Linked DNA regions of Homo sapiens: region 2 is linked to region 1. A link means that fine-mapping ties the variant in region 1 to the expression of a gene that starts in the linked region. Tissue or cell type: lung. Region 1 holds a variant in brackets; the other region holds the start of a gene. All regions are shown on one strand. Distances are from middle to middle.

Region 1 (8,100 bases):
TGCCAGAGCTTTCCAGAGCCTTTGTGGACATCTGATTTTCCAGCCTCTCCTGAGCTTCTTGTTTAGTCTCTTGTTTGCCCCGGCTATTATGCACTGCCTCAGGCAGCAGCAGCTAAAGCATTTGCTGTAAATGTTTTCCACTGTTGCACCCCCAAGTAGTGGTTTCAGGTCCATAGCCTCTGAGCCCTAGTTTTGGAGACTGTCTTTGGATGAACCCTCCAGCCAGCCGTCTCCTCGGAGAGCCAGGCTTCTCACTGCTCTTGGCCTCGGCACATAACTACCCCATGTATACCAGGCACTGAGGAGCCTCTTCTTGCCAATTGAACTGCAGCAGAACCCTCCACTTTAAAATGTATTATAGCGTTTATCCTAATCACCAGTCACTATGACTCTCTTCCCAGTTTTTATAATTGCTGTTAGTAAACTGCTTATAATCTATGCCATCATTCTTATAATGATCATTGGTATTCGCAACAGTGTGCCATCTCACCTGTGACTGTGGCACCATAGGACTGGTGGCAGGTCTTGCCTTTCAGAAAGGCCCCTTATCGCTTCTTGGCTAAGATCAAGTGTAGTATCTGTTCTTACCAGAAAGGCACCCTTTACATCCAGGCCGTGTGAACTGGGCAGTGCGTTGTGTACAGGGAAGTGTCTCTTCACCCTTGAGCCCCGGCCACTTTGGGGGTCTGGAGAGACGCCAGGGGAGCAGGCCTACGGCGGGCATCGGCCTCTCTAGGGGCTCTCAACTCAGCTCCCATCAGTTCAGCATCCTGATGTGGCTTGAGATGAATTCTTAGTGTCTGGACACACCAGAGAAAGGGTCAGCATCAAATCCACGCCAAAGGCCACTCGGGACAGTTCTTTATTTGTCCCGTTTCCCATCTGACCCCTTGAGGGCCGTGGTCTCGATGGCCCTCCTCCCGCTGTGGAAGGCCGTGTTTCTGTGCTGTTTCACCTCCCAGCGATCTGCATGCCCGCAGCCAGGCTCTGTTGGAGGTGCGGCACCACCTATGAAGTGAGGAGCAGCCAGTGTGCCTTCTGGGCTCTTGCTGGGGGCATGGCCTCATGTGAGTTGGGAGGGCCTTGGCACTGTGGATCAGCACCACACACCAGGAGTCGCCCCCCAGGCTTCCTGAAACCTCACTGCCATGAAAACATCAATGTATTTAGAAACCGAAGCAATGCTGTCAGTGCAAGAATGGGACAGGAGAGTTGAGGGTACCAACAGTGGAGAGATGCCACCAACCCCGGCAGTGGTGACGGGCTCAGCGGGCGGGGAAGGTGGCAGCCTAGAGGACAGCCCAAGGGGCAGCGGGGTGCCAGGGACAGGGCAGTGGTGAGCAGATGGAAGCAGAGGGCACAGGTGAAGCAGGTCTGGAGAGGCCCACCTCCCCGGCGAGACCCTAGCCTGTTCTTCTGTGAAGAAAGTGATGGAAATGAATAAGCAAACCAGCTCCCAAGCTGGTGGCCCGGCTCACACAGAGCCTGAGCGGCTCCCAGCTCGTCTCTTGATGTGGCTGATGTGGCTGGCGGCAGCCCGGGTGAAACCTACCTTTTTGCAGCCTCTGAGGGTCCATGGGGCAAGAGCTGATCCCTGCCTCGCCTCCATGGAACTCCTCCAAACTGTCCTCCAGAGAGAGACCCCACAGGCAACGGCTCCACCACAGCAGACCAGGGGCAGTGGCAGCTACCCAGATCCTCTTCCCAGCCCCTGTGGCTCGAAAAGCAGCCCCATGCAGGAGAGAAGGAAGCCCTGGATGAGCAGGAAATCTGACCTGAAGGACTTTCCGACACCACTGAATACACTCAGTGCGACATCCAGACATGCTTGGACAGCTGTGAAAACCCAGCCACAAAGAGACTAGAAACGAAGTGAGGCTGGGATCTCTAAGAAGAGAGAAAACAGAGAGAAAAACCAGCACAAAGATCAGCATCACACAGGCCCCAGCCAGGCACAGGGTCTCCAGGGCAGGGGACAGGGGAGATGAAGGGCAGGGCTCCGGAGGAGGTGGGCACACAGTACAAGCCAGGTGAGTGCAGGCGCCGAGCACAGGGTAGATGGAACCCACCTCCTGCCATCTGGAGTACAGGGGCCAAGGGCTGGGGCCAAAGCTTCAAGAGAGACAGCCTGTGGCCTCAGAGGAGCAGCCAGGATGCCTTACAAGCACTGAGGGCCCTGCACACCCGGCCTTGGGCTCTGGACCCTGCCAAGCCCTGCACCAAGAGTGAGGGCAGAGCAGGAAGGCCGGGATGGAGGTCTAGACGATTTGATAAGGGCAGATGCCACACGAGGGACACAGTCCGGAGCCTAGGAAGACAGTCTAGAGCAGTGCGCATTGCGGCAGGAAGCCCCTCTGCTGGGATGCCACTGGAAGCTGATGGCGAGTGGAGAGGGTCCTGGGGCGCAATTCCAGGCGGGCTGAGCACATTCCCCAGCTCGGTGTCACCCCGAGGCACACCCCAGGATTCCTGAGCTTCAGAGTCACCCTCGGGATGGGCAGAGGATGACAGATTCAGGGTTCACAGCACTTAATGTCAATGCTAATGACTTCAACATGTAAAAGGCAAAGTCTAGCTGACAGTGGGGCCACGGATGGGGAGCGGACAGGCAGGGCAGGTGAGGGGCTGTGTCCTCCTCTGTCTGCTGGGGGAGGGGGATGATGGCCATGGTCTAGGGTTGGCAACTGAGAGGCAGATGTGGTCATGGCAGATAAGGTCAGCGCAGCCACCACGGTCGCCACTGGGCCGGGCAGCCAAGGCTTAGGGCTGTCTGTGTGATTGGGTTTATTGTGTGTGCAGTGTTCTCCATCTGGTTAATACTGAACGTGCCACTGAAGTCAGGACAGCCCCTGCCTCCTCACTGTGTGCCATGTGCTGCCCCTGGGGCTTGGGGGGCAGGGGGCAGGTGGGCGGGGGCACAGCCGGGTCAACAGACCCTGGCCTGGGTCTCGGAACTGTGCTGCGGTCGGTGTGACCCAGCCCAGGGCTCCCAAGCTGCTGGCCTGGTCCCCACAGAGCCTGAGCAGCTCCCAGCTCGGCAGTGCCTGTCCCTTCCCTGCCATCCTGGTGGTGCCTGGGGCTCAAGGAGGATCAGCTGAGGACATGTGCCTTGAGTGGTGGGCAGGAGGCACCTCGCCTCTTGCGCCAGGCTCGCTTTCCTGTTGGTTTCTTTTCTATTTATTTATTTGTTTATTTTATTTATTTATTTTATATATATATATTTTTATTATACTTTAAGTTCTAGGGTACATGTGCACAACGTGCAGGTTAGTTACATATGTATACATGTGCCACGTTGGTGTGCTGCACCCATTAACTCGTCATTTACATTAGGTATATCTCCTAATGCTATCCCTCCTCCCTCCCCCCACCCCACAACAGGCCCCAGTGTGTGATGTTCCCCTTCCTGTGTCCAAGTGTTCTCATTGTTCAGTTCCCACCTATGAGTGAGAACATGCGGTGTTTGGTTTTTTGTCCTTGCGATAGTTTGCTGAGAATGATGGTTTCCAGCTTCATCCATGTCCCTACAAAGGACATGAACTCATCTTTTTTTATGGGCCGCGTAGTATTCCATGGTGTATATGTGCCATATTTTCTTAATCCAGTCTATCAGTGTTGGACATTTGGGTTGGTTCCAAGTCTTTGCTATTGTGAATAGTGCTGCAATAAACATACGTGTGCATGTGTCT[G/T]TATAGCAGCATGATTTATAGTCCTTTGGGTATATACCCAGTAATGGGATGGCTGGGTCAAATGGTATTTCTAGTTCTAGATCCCTGAGGAATCGCCACACTGACTTCCACAATGGTGGAACTAGTTTACACTCCCACCATCCTTTTGGTTTCTTTTCTTTCCTCTGCAGCTACCAAGATGAATGAACTAATGGAGAAATAGAAAGTCTTCAGTGATGGCCTACGCCAAAGCACAGGATGGGGCGGGCAGGAAGCCCTCTCCCAAGATCGAGTTGGCCGAGGATGGATGATTGTGGCAGCAGAAGCCGTTGCAGCCCCACGTTGTGCTCTAGGCAGGGACCTTTGGCCCCTTTGGGGAGGGAGAGACAGACGGGCGGTTTGACTTGGACACAAAGAAAGCCTTGGTTTCTAAGCAGTTGCCTCCAGCCTGCTTTCTGCTTCCTCAGCTCTATGTCTCTCTCCTTCCCCTTGTCCTGAGCTGCTCAGGTGGCCCAGGTCTGGGCAGGCTGGCGGCGGCCCTCCTGTCATCTTGGCGGGCCTGGGCTGCGTCCTCTTCCTGTGGCTCCACTCCTCCCTGCTGCTGCCAGCCACTTGAAAGCAGAGAACCCACTGTCGCCTCCCCCGGCTGGCCTTAGGGTCCTGTGCGAGACGCACCCCTCAGCCGCCCTCCTTGAGTGCCCCTGGATCCCCCGCGGGGTACCAGTTTCCTGCTCCTCCCTGGCTGGGCGCTCAGCTCTGGGCTGGGGAATTCAGCCTGACTGGTTGTCCAGGAAGATGCTGTCTGGGCTTCCCAGGGTGACCCAGTATCTCCCTGAGCAGTGTGCCTGTCACAGCTGCCTCCCTCCCTGTGAGTACCGGAACAGGCGTGACTGGTAGGGCCTCTGCCTCCTTGGGGCCATTGTACCTGCTGCTGCCCGCCCCACCCTGCTCCCTCCTGGCACCATCTCCTTTGCTTCCCCAAGGTCCCTGTGGGCACACAAGGCAAGGAGGCCAGGAGGAGCCAGGTGCCAGACCCCCCTCCATCCCAGTCGCCTGAGGCATCCCCCAGCCACCACTGTGAGAGGTGGGAGGCCGGGCAGGCCTGTGGTCACCATGGTGCAGGTGCACCACCTGATTTATAGGCCAAGGGACTCCTCTTGGTCACCTCTCTGTGCCCCCAGCATGGGGCTGGCCCTGCAGTGCACCCACCATCAAGGGCTGTTGTCTCTTGCTCCAGAATGAGGTCTTCAGGGCGCCACTGCTCGCAGGACCGGGAAGGACCTGGTGCCCTTTGCCTGGAGCGGGATAGACAGGGCAGGTCCCTGAGCCTGGGGTCCGAGGGGCTGGGCTTCACTCCTCCTGTAGTCCCGGCGCTCCTGGCCCACCCCCTAACGTTGCTTATCTGTGGTGGAGGAAGCATTAGCTCAGCTGCGGCCTGCACAGCTCCCGGGCCAGGCCCACCTCCCTTCCTTCCCCAGCAGCCACTGTTAGGTGCACGGTAGACATGATGAAGCGACGTCCTTAAAGCAGATAGCATCTCCCGAGGCTGCCCCATCCCTAGGTTTTGGGGGAGCACCCCTTCCCCTTTGGAGGCTGAGCACGGCATGTGTGGGCACCTTGGTCACACTCCAGAGCTCGCTTCATCCCCACGAGCGGCACCTGATCTCCAGTGACGGGGAGACTGAGGCCTGGCAAAGAGGACCTGTTGCCTTTGTGTAACTGGCCCCAGCATGGGGGAGGCATTGGCCCCAGCATGGGGGAGGCATTGACCCCAGGCCTGCCAGGCCTGGCAGCCACAGCCTGGCTAGGTGGAGGTTACTGCCTTCCGCACCACTCTGGCTTCCTCCCCGTGCCTGTGAAGAGCTCGGGGCCTGCTTCCTAATTTGTAAACACGGGGCGTGTGTCTCAGTGGCTGTGAGCTAGCGAGGGGGTGGCGAGCGAGCCGGCTGCGCAGGTCCTGAGGCCCCAGGCCTCATTGTTGGCCAACAGGCAGCTGGGGGCGGGCTGCGGCCGCTGATTAAAGGCCGCCTAGAGCAGCCTGTGTGGCGACAGGTGCCCAGAAGCCCAGGAAGCCGGTCAGTGCCCGCCCCAGGTAAGCTGGTGTGGTGGGGTTGGCAAGGACAGTCTCCCCGGGAGCCTGGGGGCAAGCAGGCAGAGGCCAGCTCGGGACCAGCACCTGTGTGCCAGGGACAAGGGTGGGGAGGTCGAGCCCAGCGGGAGCTGGGTGCACTGCATGGGCTCTTTCGGGTGGCTGCTTGCCTGCTTCCCGGCAGCTGGTTCCAGGGCTGGAGACCCAGTGTGCTATGCCCCAGGTTCCCAGCCAAGGCATTCCGGTGAAGGGGCTGGACCCCGCCAAGGTGCGGTCCCTGAGCTGCCTCTGCCTCTCCCAATCCCTGCTGGGGACTGTGGCTGGAGGCAGGCAGTAGAGCGCTCTGAGGCCTGCCTTTTCTGTTCAGTAGGTGACAGGAGTGGGGCTGACGCTCCCAGAGCCAAAGGTCACAGGTGCTGTGGTCGGGGGTGGCAGGAAGTGAGCCCCAGAAGGGTCAGAGCTTTGGCTAGGGGGAGGATGGTACACAGCAGGGCCCGGGCGAACCCCTCTCTCCAGTCCTCAGGGTTTGTGCCTCTCGCTCGGACAGTTTGAGGACTTGCTATCCCCGTGGGAACATCACCATGTCCGAGGCACCCCGGGCCGAGACCTTTGTCTTCCTGGACCTGGAAGCCACTGGGCTCCCCAGTGTGGAGCCCGAGATTGCCGAGCTGTCCCTCTTTGCTGTCCACCGCTCCTCCCTGGAGAACCCGGAGCACGACGAGTCTGGTGCCCTAGTATTGCCCCGGGTCCTGGACAAGCTCACGCTGTGCATGTGCCCGGAGCGCCCCTTCACTGCCAAGGCCAGCGAGATCACCGGCCTGAGCAGTGAGGGCCTGGCGCGATGCCGGAAGGCTGGCTTTGATGGCGCCGTGGTGCGGACGCTGCAGGCCTTCCTGAGCCGCCAGGCAGGGCCCATCTGCCTTGTGGCCCACAATGGCTTTGATTATGATTTCCCCCTGCTGTGTGCCGAGCTGCGGCGCCTGGGTGCCCGCCTGCCCCGGGACACTGTCTGCCTGGACACGCTGCCGGCCCTGCGGGGCCTGGACCGCGCCCACAGCCACGGCACCCGGGCCCGGGGCCGCCAGGGTTACAGCCTCGGCAGCCTCTTCCACCGCTACTTCCGGGCAGAGCCAAGCGCAGCCCACTCAGCCGAGGGCGACGTGCACACCCTGCTCCTGATCTTCCTGCACCGCGCCGCAGAGCTGCTCGCCTGGGCCGATGAGCAGGCCCGTGGGTGGGCCCACATCGAGCCCATGTACTTGCCGCCTGATGACCCCAGCCTGGAGGCCTGAGCACCAGGGCCACCTCCTGTGCCATGGACAGTGCCAGCCTCCACCGTTCAGCTGGCCTCTACCACCCCCGGCTCCTCCTATCTGGGCAGCCTCAGGTCCGTGCACCTGCCAGGCCTTCCCTGGCTGCCTGACCAGCCATACGGCCCTGGATTCCTCTCCAGGCCCCGCTTCCAGGGCCGTGCTCTCCCGGCTGGCCTGGGTGCCCAGCAGAGTTTGCTGTTTCCCAATAAACATTGCCAACTACTCACCCTCCGACTAGCTGGCCAGATACTAGGGGCTGGACTCCCTCGACCCCCTGCTGAGCAGGGCCAGGCGGTGAGCCATGCCAGGGGCCAGCACAAGACCTCCAGGGCCGCCCCCCTATGGCCTCTCCTCGCGGTGAGGACCGTGGGTGGCTGGGTAGGGAGACGTCAAGCTCTTGGGTTGGTCTGAGGGCTGATGGGTTGTGGCTGTGGGCTGATTGCCGCCCATCTGCATTGTCACCCCAGAGGCCCAAAGAAGCCATGAGTAGGGCCTTAAGCCCACAGAGCCGGCCGCCTGCCTGGGCACAAAGCTCAGCTGCAGCGCTTGCCCGCCGTGGGACCTGGAGTCTCTGTCCCTGCTCTGTGAAGTGGTAACAGGGTGAAATGTTAAGAAACGGGGTGCTGGGGAAAAGGGAGGTGCCCCCACATGTGGGCATGCACATGTACATGTACATGCTAAGGGCCCTGACGGTGCACGGAGCAGAGGTGGGGTGGCTGGTGCTGTGAGGGTGACCCTGGAAGGGAGCCTATCCTGCAGCCCGTGTCCCCGTAGGGCCAGGAGGCCGCTCGGTGGGAGGGCAGCTTCTGGCCACCGCACTGTGCTTTGGGTTCCCTGCTAACCTGCCTCAGGGGCCCCACCCTGAGGCACTTCCAGTCTTGGGAGGCCTCATGGGTGGGGAGAGACCTGTCACCAACGCTGGGTCAGGTAAGAAGGGATGGGGTGGCCACGCCTGAGAGTGACTCACATGAGCAAAGCCTGAGCCTCCAGCCAGCTGGACAATCTGGGAAGCCCTAAGTAGGTCAGAATG
Region 2 (8,089 bases), 23 kb before region 1:
GGCCCCAGACCATCCCTCCCATTTTTGGGGCCCGGGGCAGGAGGACAAAGATGGACCGCTGAGCCACTGCCTCCCTGCCAGCCAGACTCTGTCCACACCCCCTACAACTGCCTCTGGCCTCAGAGCAAGGGTCGCCCTAGGTCGCAGGCCCTGCCCTCTTGCAGGAGCCTGTGGCCTGGGGGACAGGGCGGGGTAGGTGATGGTAGCACCTCCAGGCCCACTGGAGGCGATGGTGATGGCGATGGTGGTACCATGCTGACTGCGCTGCGGAATGTGCTCTTGCAGGAGCTGGTGGCCTGGGGGCAGGATGGGGCAGGTGAGGGCCCCTCAACTGCAGGAGGTGAGGGTGGGGCCCTAAAGCAGGAGGCCCAGCATAGGGACTAGAAGTGACAGGAAGAGGAAGCCAAGGTCCCAAGGCAGCCTCTCCATTCTCATATGCCAGTAGACTCCAAAGATGAACACGGAGGCCTAGGAGGAGAACGTTGTAGAGTTGAGTCTTCAGGCAGCTCCCAGGTTGACAGTGTGGTCCCTCCAGAGTTAGGGCCACAGGCCGCAGGGCTCCCCCAAGCTTACAGCCACTTCCTTGTCTCATTTGCAAGGCCCCCACCCCTGCTTTCGTGTTCTCCATCCCTTCCCCCATCTGCAAGGATAGGGCTGGGTTTCGGGTGGGCTCCTGGCTGGTGCAGATGGCGTGGGCTGCCCGCAAGACCTGGGTACTGAGCCTGCATGCCAGGATGCAGGGTGGATGGGTGACCAACAGCTCAGCCTGGCAGCTTAGCAGCAGAGAGGTCCCAGGAAGACAGGGAGGAGATGAGGAGAAGGAAGAGGGAGAGGAGGACAGGACGGGGAGGGAGGGGAGGGGAGGCAGAGGCAGCCCCCTGGCTTTGCCTTGCCTGCGGAGAGCCTCACACTCAGACCGTCCTGAGCCTGACCTCATTACTCTGTCACATTTCTCCCTCAAACCCAATGCCAGGGCTCACCACTTGCTTCTCGCATGGGTGTGATCAGCTTCTCATCTTAGACCTGAACTCTCCCCAAAACACACACACGCACACACACGCACACACTTGCCTTGTCTTCAACAGCTTGCATTTGGTACTCTCCACCCTTACTGAGGAACTTTAGTGGCCAGGGGTGGGGGGTGATGGAGGACACTTCAGTCCCTCAAAGGCTCCTCCCCAGGTTCCCTGGTTCAGGGCCGGGAGTCGAAGTGGCCCCGTGGAGCAAGGCCTTCTAGGGCTTTAGCTCTGACAGCATTCTAGGGCCTAGGCGCCCCCAGGTGGGGTGGCTCCCCCTCAGGTCTAACTCCAGCCCCTGCCAGAAGCAGACCCGCCTCTGCAGAGAGGAAAGCCCTTGGACTTCAGCTTCCTTTGATTCGCGGTGTCTTTGGGGGATTGGGGGGTCCCTGGTTGATTCCCGCTGCACCGTGGGGTCTGCCCTTAAGGTCATATGAAGAGCAGGGCCCGGATGCTCTGAGGACTTTTTCAATACCCTCCACAGGTCAGGGAGGCTGCCCACTTGGTGAGCTCAACTGTTTGGCCATATATCTCTGGGCCCACCACACAAACTGAGAGGTCTCGAATGCCACCAGCACCCGCCAGCCCATCTCTGGCACAGCGGGGCCAGTGCCGTGAACCAGTCTCATTTTCCAACGTGTTTTCCAAGCACTGACACGGCTGAGGCCCTGCTGGGACGCATGGCCAACTTTCCTCCATGACCAGGACCCCCCAGCTTCCCCGCCACATCCACAGCTTCCCCCCAACATCCCTCCTCCAGGTCAATGGGTCCTTCAGCCACATTTTTGGCTCCTGACCCACCCAGGCCTCCCTCAGAGAACCTGGGGTCTCTGGGTTGGAATGTCCCTTAGAGATGTGCCCCCTCCCTCCCCCATGGTAGGACTCAACCCTCCACATCCCCGCCCACCCACCTCCCTGGGCTTGTAGACCTTCTAGGACCGGGAGCTCCCTTCCTCTCCTGGCAGCCAGCTGGTGTTCAGACAGTGATTTCTGGGAGGAGTGCTTTCTTGGACTGAGCTTGAGTCCACATTTCCAGAAGCTTCTACCTCTGGGCCCCTTCTTTCCCCCTTCCTGAGAGGCCCAGCAGCCTCTCTGTTCCCTCCCCAGCCTCCAGCTTTTCCGGAGGAAGATGCCTGGGAGGTGCTATGATTCTGGGGGCGGGTGGTGGGTGGCAGGTGGTGGGTGGTGGGTGGTGGGTGGTGGGGTGGCGTGGGCAGGGAAGCTGCAGCCTGCTGCTGGGTCTTCAGCGACCATCTCCAGGGGCTGAGGGCTGGCCAACAGGTTCTCCATGAGGGGGATGGCCTCCATAACCTCTCAAGATGATCTTCGCCTCTCAAGGCCCTGCCAGTTCCTCAGGGTCCCATAGACTGAACTGCTGAGGTTGGGGAGGCCTGTTGAGCACACTGGCTCCGTGGAGCTGGGTGGAGGAGGGAGATTTTCTTCCAGAGTACACAGGAGCTGGTTTCTTCCCGGTCCTCAGGAGCAGAGAATATGGGGAGGGTTGGGGGAGGCTGCCACACTGCCGTGGTTTCTTCCGCCAAATTCCCCAGTCCTAGGAAAGATCCACAGAAAAACCCACAAGAATTTGAATGTCTGAGCTGGGGCTGTGATTGAGATGAAATTTTCTAAAAAGAAAGAAAGAAAAACAAAAACAAAAAAGAGGGAAAAAAACGCTTAAAAAAAAATCCCAAAGCCTTTGACAGCCCTCAGCTACCAGAAGGGCCTGAGGCAGCAGCCACGTGGAAGGGTAGAGAGCAACCTTGAGGCACTTCGCTGGGCCTGTGTCGGGGCCTCCCAGGCTGAGGTCCCTTCCTGTGACCCCCGGACTCCTGCCCGCTCCCTCCTCCCAGGACGGAGTGAAGTCCCCTCCTGTCACTTGGATGACTGCAGTTGCCTCCCAGCAGGTCCCTGGGTCTCCCTGACTATAGACTTGCCCCCTGATCCCACCCTCCAGGAGATGGCAGGGTAGGGCACAGAGGAGGGCACAGTGGCAGCTGCCTGCTGCTGTCTCCTGGCTACTGGGCACAAGCCACCCTCCAACTCCTTCCTGCCTTGCCCAATCAGCAGGTCCCTGGGTAAGGGGCATTCAGTGAACTGGGGGCTTTGCAGGTCTGGGGGAGGAGCGACTGACATATTTCATTGCAGACGCATTGAGTTTGAGGGTCCTGAGGGATGTAGAAAAATTTGTTAAGTAGACAGGATAGGAAGGAGCCACAGGTAGCCCCAGGAGCCGTGAGGGGAGCAGGGCCCAGCATGTATTACAATAGTGAGCATTTACGTGGTTCTTCGCATGCGCCGGGCACTGTTCTAGGGATTCCACAGGAATTATTACCGCCTGCCATCCTCATTAGCAACCCAGTGGGTAAGGTGCTCTCATTAGCTCCATTAGGTGAGGGCAAAGAGGCACAGAGAGGTTAGGTAACTGGTTCAAAGGCACACAGCTGGTGAGTGACAAGAAATTTCCTTCTAACTACAGCGTGAGCATGGTGAAGAGAAGACGGAGCCCCGCGCTGGGAGAGGAACGCTTCAGTCCGAGTTCCATTCTGCACCCAAGGCTCCCCTTGGTCCTCCTGGGAACCAGGGTGCCCCTTAGTGGTGGTGGCCCAGGAGAACCCGACCAAGGCAGGAGCGCCCCCTCCTGGAAGAGCCTCGCTTCAACGCATCATCATTCCCGGCCGGCAGCAGGGGCGACGCCAGCAAGGCCTGCGACTCAGAGCCAGCTTGGCCCGTTCGCCCCGCCCCTTCCCGGTGTCCGCCCCGCCCCTTTCCCGGTGTCCGCCCCGCCTCCTTCCCGGTGTCCGCCCCGCCCCCTTCCCTGTGTCCGCCCCGCCCCCTTCCCTGTGTCCGCCCTGCCCGCTTCACTGTGGTCCTGCCTCTGGGTGGTGCCGGGGCGGGGGGTGGGAGCCCGGGGCCCGCGCAGGCGGAGATGTCGCCCAATGGGAAGGGTCGGTCGGGAAGGGGGTGGGCGCAGGCGGGTGGGCGGGAAGAACGCTGGAGGTTGATTGGCGGTCTTGCCGGCCAGTGAAGCCAGGGCATGGGCGGGGCGCGGCTCGGAGCGCGAAACATGGCGGGGCAGGACGCTGGCTGCGGCCGTGGCGGCGACGACTACTCAGAGGACGAGGGCGACAGCAGCGTGTCCAGGGCGGCTGTGGAGGTGTTCGGGAAGCTGAAGGTGCTGTTGGCCCAGAAAGCCACTCCAGGGCGGGGGACCGGGGAGGGCCCCGCCCGAGGCCCGGGAGGGCTTGCTGCGGAAGTCCGCGGCGCCACGCGGCCACCGTCGCCGGTTCCGGCTGCGCCCTGTTCCCTTGCAGCAGGGGGTGCTTGTGGATCATTCATCTTTGCCCTTTGGTGTGCCCCAGGCCTTCGTTCTTGCTGTCTCCACGGCCCGTGCCTGGTAGTTGGGGCCAGCACCGCCTGTGGAACTGCAGTACCCGCGCTGGGCGCTCGGAGCAAGTGCAGACACAGAGGACCCAGGCCTGGCCTTAGGGATCTTGCGGGGTCTGGGGGGACAGATGGGCAGAGCCTCGTGCCACTCTGTCAAGTCAGCGAGACTAGGGCTTGGTGTCAGTTGGTGTCAGATGCCAGGGGTGATAGCCTCCAGAAGCCCTCTACAGCCCCACAGGACAGAGCCCTCACTGCAGCAGTGAGGAAAGCTGGCCCACGAGGTTAGGGAGCTGTCCCAGGTCCCCTCGGCCCGCTCGCTCCTCCCCCCAGACACTCCCCCATCCTGTCCGCGACTGGCTCAGTGGTCCCTCTCCCTTTCCCTCTCCCCTTTCCCTCAGTCCCGAAACCTAGGACTCTCTCTTAAGTCTTAGTCTCAGGCGTTGCTCCTAGGTCCTGCTGCCACAAGAGCCCAGAGTGGGAGTACTTGAAAGAGGTGGGGTCTGCATGCCGCGGGAGATGTGGGGTTAAGAATGGGGGGACTTGAACTCTTGGCAAGATGGCAGGACGCGGGTAAAGGAAAGGGTCCTGGGAGCTTGCAGATGTACACTGAGGACTGGGCGCGGCGGCCCACGCCTGTAATCCCACCACTTTGGGAGGCTGAGGTGGGCAGATACCTGAGGTCAGGAGTTTGACACCAGCCTGGCCAACATGGTGAAACTCCGTCTCTATTAAAAATACAAAAATTGTCCGGGCGTGGTGGCGCATGCCTGTAATCCCCCAGCTACCCTGGGAGCTGAGGCAGGAGAATTGCTGGAACCCAGGAGGTGGAGGCTGCAGTGAGCCGAGATCATGCCACTGCACTCCATCCAGGCTGGGCGACAGAGTGAGACTCCGTCTCAAAAATAAATAAATAAATAAAATGAAATGATGTACACTGGGACTTTCAGTGAATGTTGCTTTCCTTTTCCTTGCTTAGGACCTAAACTGCCCCTTCCTCGAGGGTCTGTATATCACAGAGCCAAAGACAATTCAGGAACTGCTGTGCAGCCCCTCAGAGTACCGCTTGGAGATCCTAGAGTGGATGTGTACCCGGTAATGCATCAGTTTCTTCCTCTTCCCACCTGGGGTGTGCATGGGCGCCAGCCAGCCCCACCTGGGGAAGATGGGGTTTGTGGTTACTGTGAGTAGCTGTCTTCCCAGAGGGCTCCACCCCCTAGCCTGGACCCTCGTGAGAACAGCTGTGTAGGTAAGGAGTACTGGTGACAGGCATGATCAAACTTGGGGCAAAGTGGCCCCTGGCGGTGCTGGGCTAGTCCAGCCACCCCTTTGCTGCAGTGCTGAACTTGCCCTCAGCGTTTGCCTTGCCTTATGAGTTTGGAGGTTCAGGACTGGCAGGCACCTGAGAAATGCTCCATTCCAGTCCTTTCCTTCTCAGACCCGGAAGCCAAGGGTCAGGCTGGAGGCATGAACAGTCTCTGGTCTCCCAGTGGAGGAGTGACAGGCAGGGCCAGGGCGTGGGCTCCTGGCTGGGTCTCAGCTGGCCAAGTGGTCCTCATGCAGTGTCACCTCTTGTCAGCTTCTGTGCCGTGACCCGTTTCCCAGTCCTCTGGTGCCTTTGGGCCAGGGTGTAGCATGGTGTGTGCCTGGCACCCTATGAAGCCCATGGTGACAGGGTGACTTCCTGAGTGATGGTGGAGGAAATGATCCAGAGTGTCCCATTCCCAGGGCAGACATCCTTCCCCTGGTGACGTAGTCCCTGAGCTGAGGGTCTGTCTCACTGCCTCACAGCTGTGAGTGGAGAAGGCTTTCCCCGCCTCCCACAGAGCACAGGCTCCTGTGGGATTGGGTGTGTGCCCAGGCCATGCTCAGGAACAGCTGTAGTCTGTTGGTACAGGAGCCTCTCGTGAGTCCAGGCCCGGGCCTCCCCCTCCTCAGCCTGCGGCCTGCCTACCCTTGCTGCTTGAGGAAGGGGCCTGGGCGGGAGCCTGGCAGTAGAGCAGTGGGGAGCCAACCTGCATCCAGCCGGTCTGGCCCGCCAGGACCAGAGACATCAGCAGGACGCCCAGCTGGATACAGGCCCCCAGAGGAAGGAGGAGGCGTTTTTGTGTTTGAGCCCTTGCTGTTCCAGAGGCGTCTCCTGCCTCTGCCTTCTAGGCCCTTCCTCAGGCCTCTCCCCAGGGCTCAGCACAGCAGCTCCTCGCTTCATAACCTTTTGCTCTTGCTCACATTGTTCCCCCTCCTGGAAATGGCCTTCTAGTCTCTGCATGTCGTACGTCCTCCTGTACAGCCCGCAAAGACCCAACTCACACGTCCTGTCTCCTTTTAAAATGTTTCCTGTTCCCAGGGCAGAATGTATTCCGCTTCCCTCTGGATGCCCACAGCCTTTGAGCACACCCTGCCCCTGCTGGAGCCCTCAACCTGTGGGTGCACTCTTGGCCTGCTGTCATTTCCGGCTCTTTAGTATGGGAGCCGCAGCATGGTGTGGCCGTGCAGTCGGGGGGTTCTCCAGGCTGCACCTGTGTGCCATTCCACGCGCTGCAGACGTGACTGGGTGTCCTCAGGAGCTGGGTATTTAGTGGGTACAAGTCCTGGGGTTCAGCAGAAATGATGCACAGCACTGCAGTCTGAGTTGGGTGCTGTGGATGTTGGCAGGGAGGAGGTGGCATTTGATCTGGGATGGGGACGGTAACAGCGGGGTGCTCGTTTGGACAGGAGCAGGGAGTTGAGGTGTGGGAGAGAGAGCTGGGCAGCAGCAGCTGGAATGGCAGCTCAGGGCAGCTCCCTCAGGGCCTTGCATGCTGTGCCAAGGCCTTTGAGCTTTATGTTCTGGGCAGGGCAGGCGTGGAACCTGGGGAGCGACGTGCTGAGATTGGCATTTTGGTAAGGTGACTCAGGGTGCTCTGTGGCAGATGGATTTGGAGGGCAATGGCTGCAGGCAGGGAGACCAATACCCCAGGGAAAGACAGAAGGAGCCCTGCGCTGAGTGGCAGATGGCTTGTCTGGCAGCCACTACTGGCCCTGGAGGGACCAGCCCCTGGCCTGGGAACCTGGGAGGCTGGGAGGTGAGGCAGGACTGGAGATGGCTGGGTGGAGTGTGAGGGTCTTGAGCGAGCTCCCAGGAGGAGGCTCTTGTGGGAGGGGGCGCAGATTTGCCTGACTCAGGTGGAAGCTGGGGGCACTTGGGGAACTGGGGTCATCTGGCCAGAGAGGGACGGGTAGGAGGCCAAAGCCACGCCCCTCAGATGCTTCTACAGGTTGAGTGTCCCATATCCAAAATGTCTGGGGGCCAGAAGTGTTTCAGATTTCGATTTCTTCGGATTTTGGAATATATGCATTATACTGGTCGAGTGTCCCTAATCTGAAAATCCGAAATCTCAAATGCTCCAGTGAGCATCTCCTTTGAGCGTCATATCGGCGATCAGAAAGTTTAGGATTTTGGAGCATTTCAGGTTTTCAGATTAGGGATATTCAACCTGTAGTACTTCTGTAAATACCAGAAACCGAATCCTTTGAAAAAGCTGCCAGGGAGCATACGATGACGTTGTCTGATTTCAGGTTGGCGAGAATTCCTTAGGCCTTTTGAGGGTCCTACAGGAGAATCAGATGGATGGGAGTTTTCCTGTGAATTTCCCATTGCCTTTCTTTGTACGTGACCGCACCCTGTCAGCCCCATTTAGGGCCGCCTTTTC

Evidence for each region. PIP is the estimated chance that this variant, and not a neighbour inherited with it, causes the effect.
Region 2: it holds the start of HAUS7, and the variant in region 1 is fine-mapped to the expression of HAUS7 in lung (TOPMed, PIP 0.98). The same link has a PIP of 0.9 or more in breast.

Annotation. Positions count from the first base shown.
Region 1 is chrX:153,443,669-153,451,768 of GRCh38, reverse strand. TREX2 (three prime repair exonuclease 2) reads left to right here and starts at 5,713. Exons shown (of 2, transcript NM_080701.4): 1 at 5,713-5,760; 2 at 6,274-7,296. The coding sequence starts at 6,339. The coding sequence ends at 7,049. It overlaps HAUS7 (HAUS augmin like complex subunit 7), which reads left to right. Exons shown (of 10, transcript NM_001385482.1): 10 at 3,860-4,101. The coding sequence ends at 3,891. The variant G/T (reference allele first, on the strand shown) is at 3,690.
Region 2 is chrX:153,466,549-153,474,637 of GRCh38, reverse strand. HAUS7 (HAUS augmin like complex subunit 7) reads left to right here and starts at 4,062. Exons shown (of 10, transcript NM_001385482.1): 1 at 4,062-4,188; 2 at 5,377-5,492. The coding sequence starts at 4,081. RefSeq lists enhancers at 3,533-3,827, 4,341-4,440, 4,591-4,770 and a silencer at 3,701-4,010.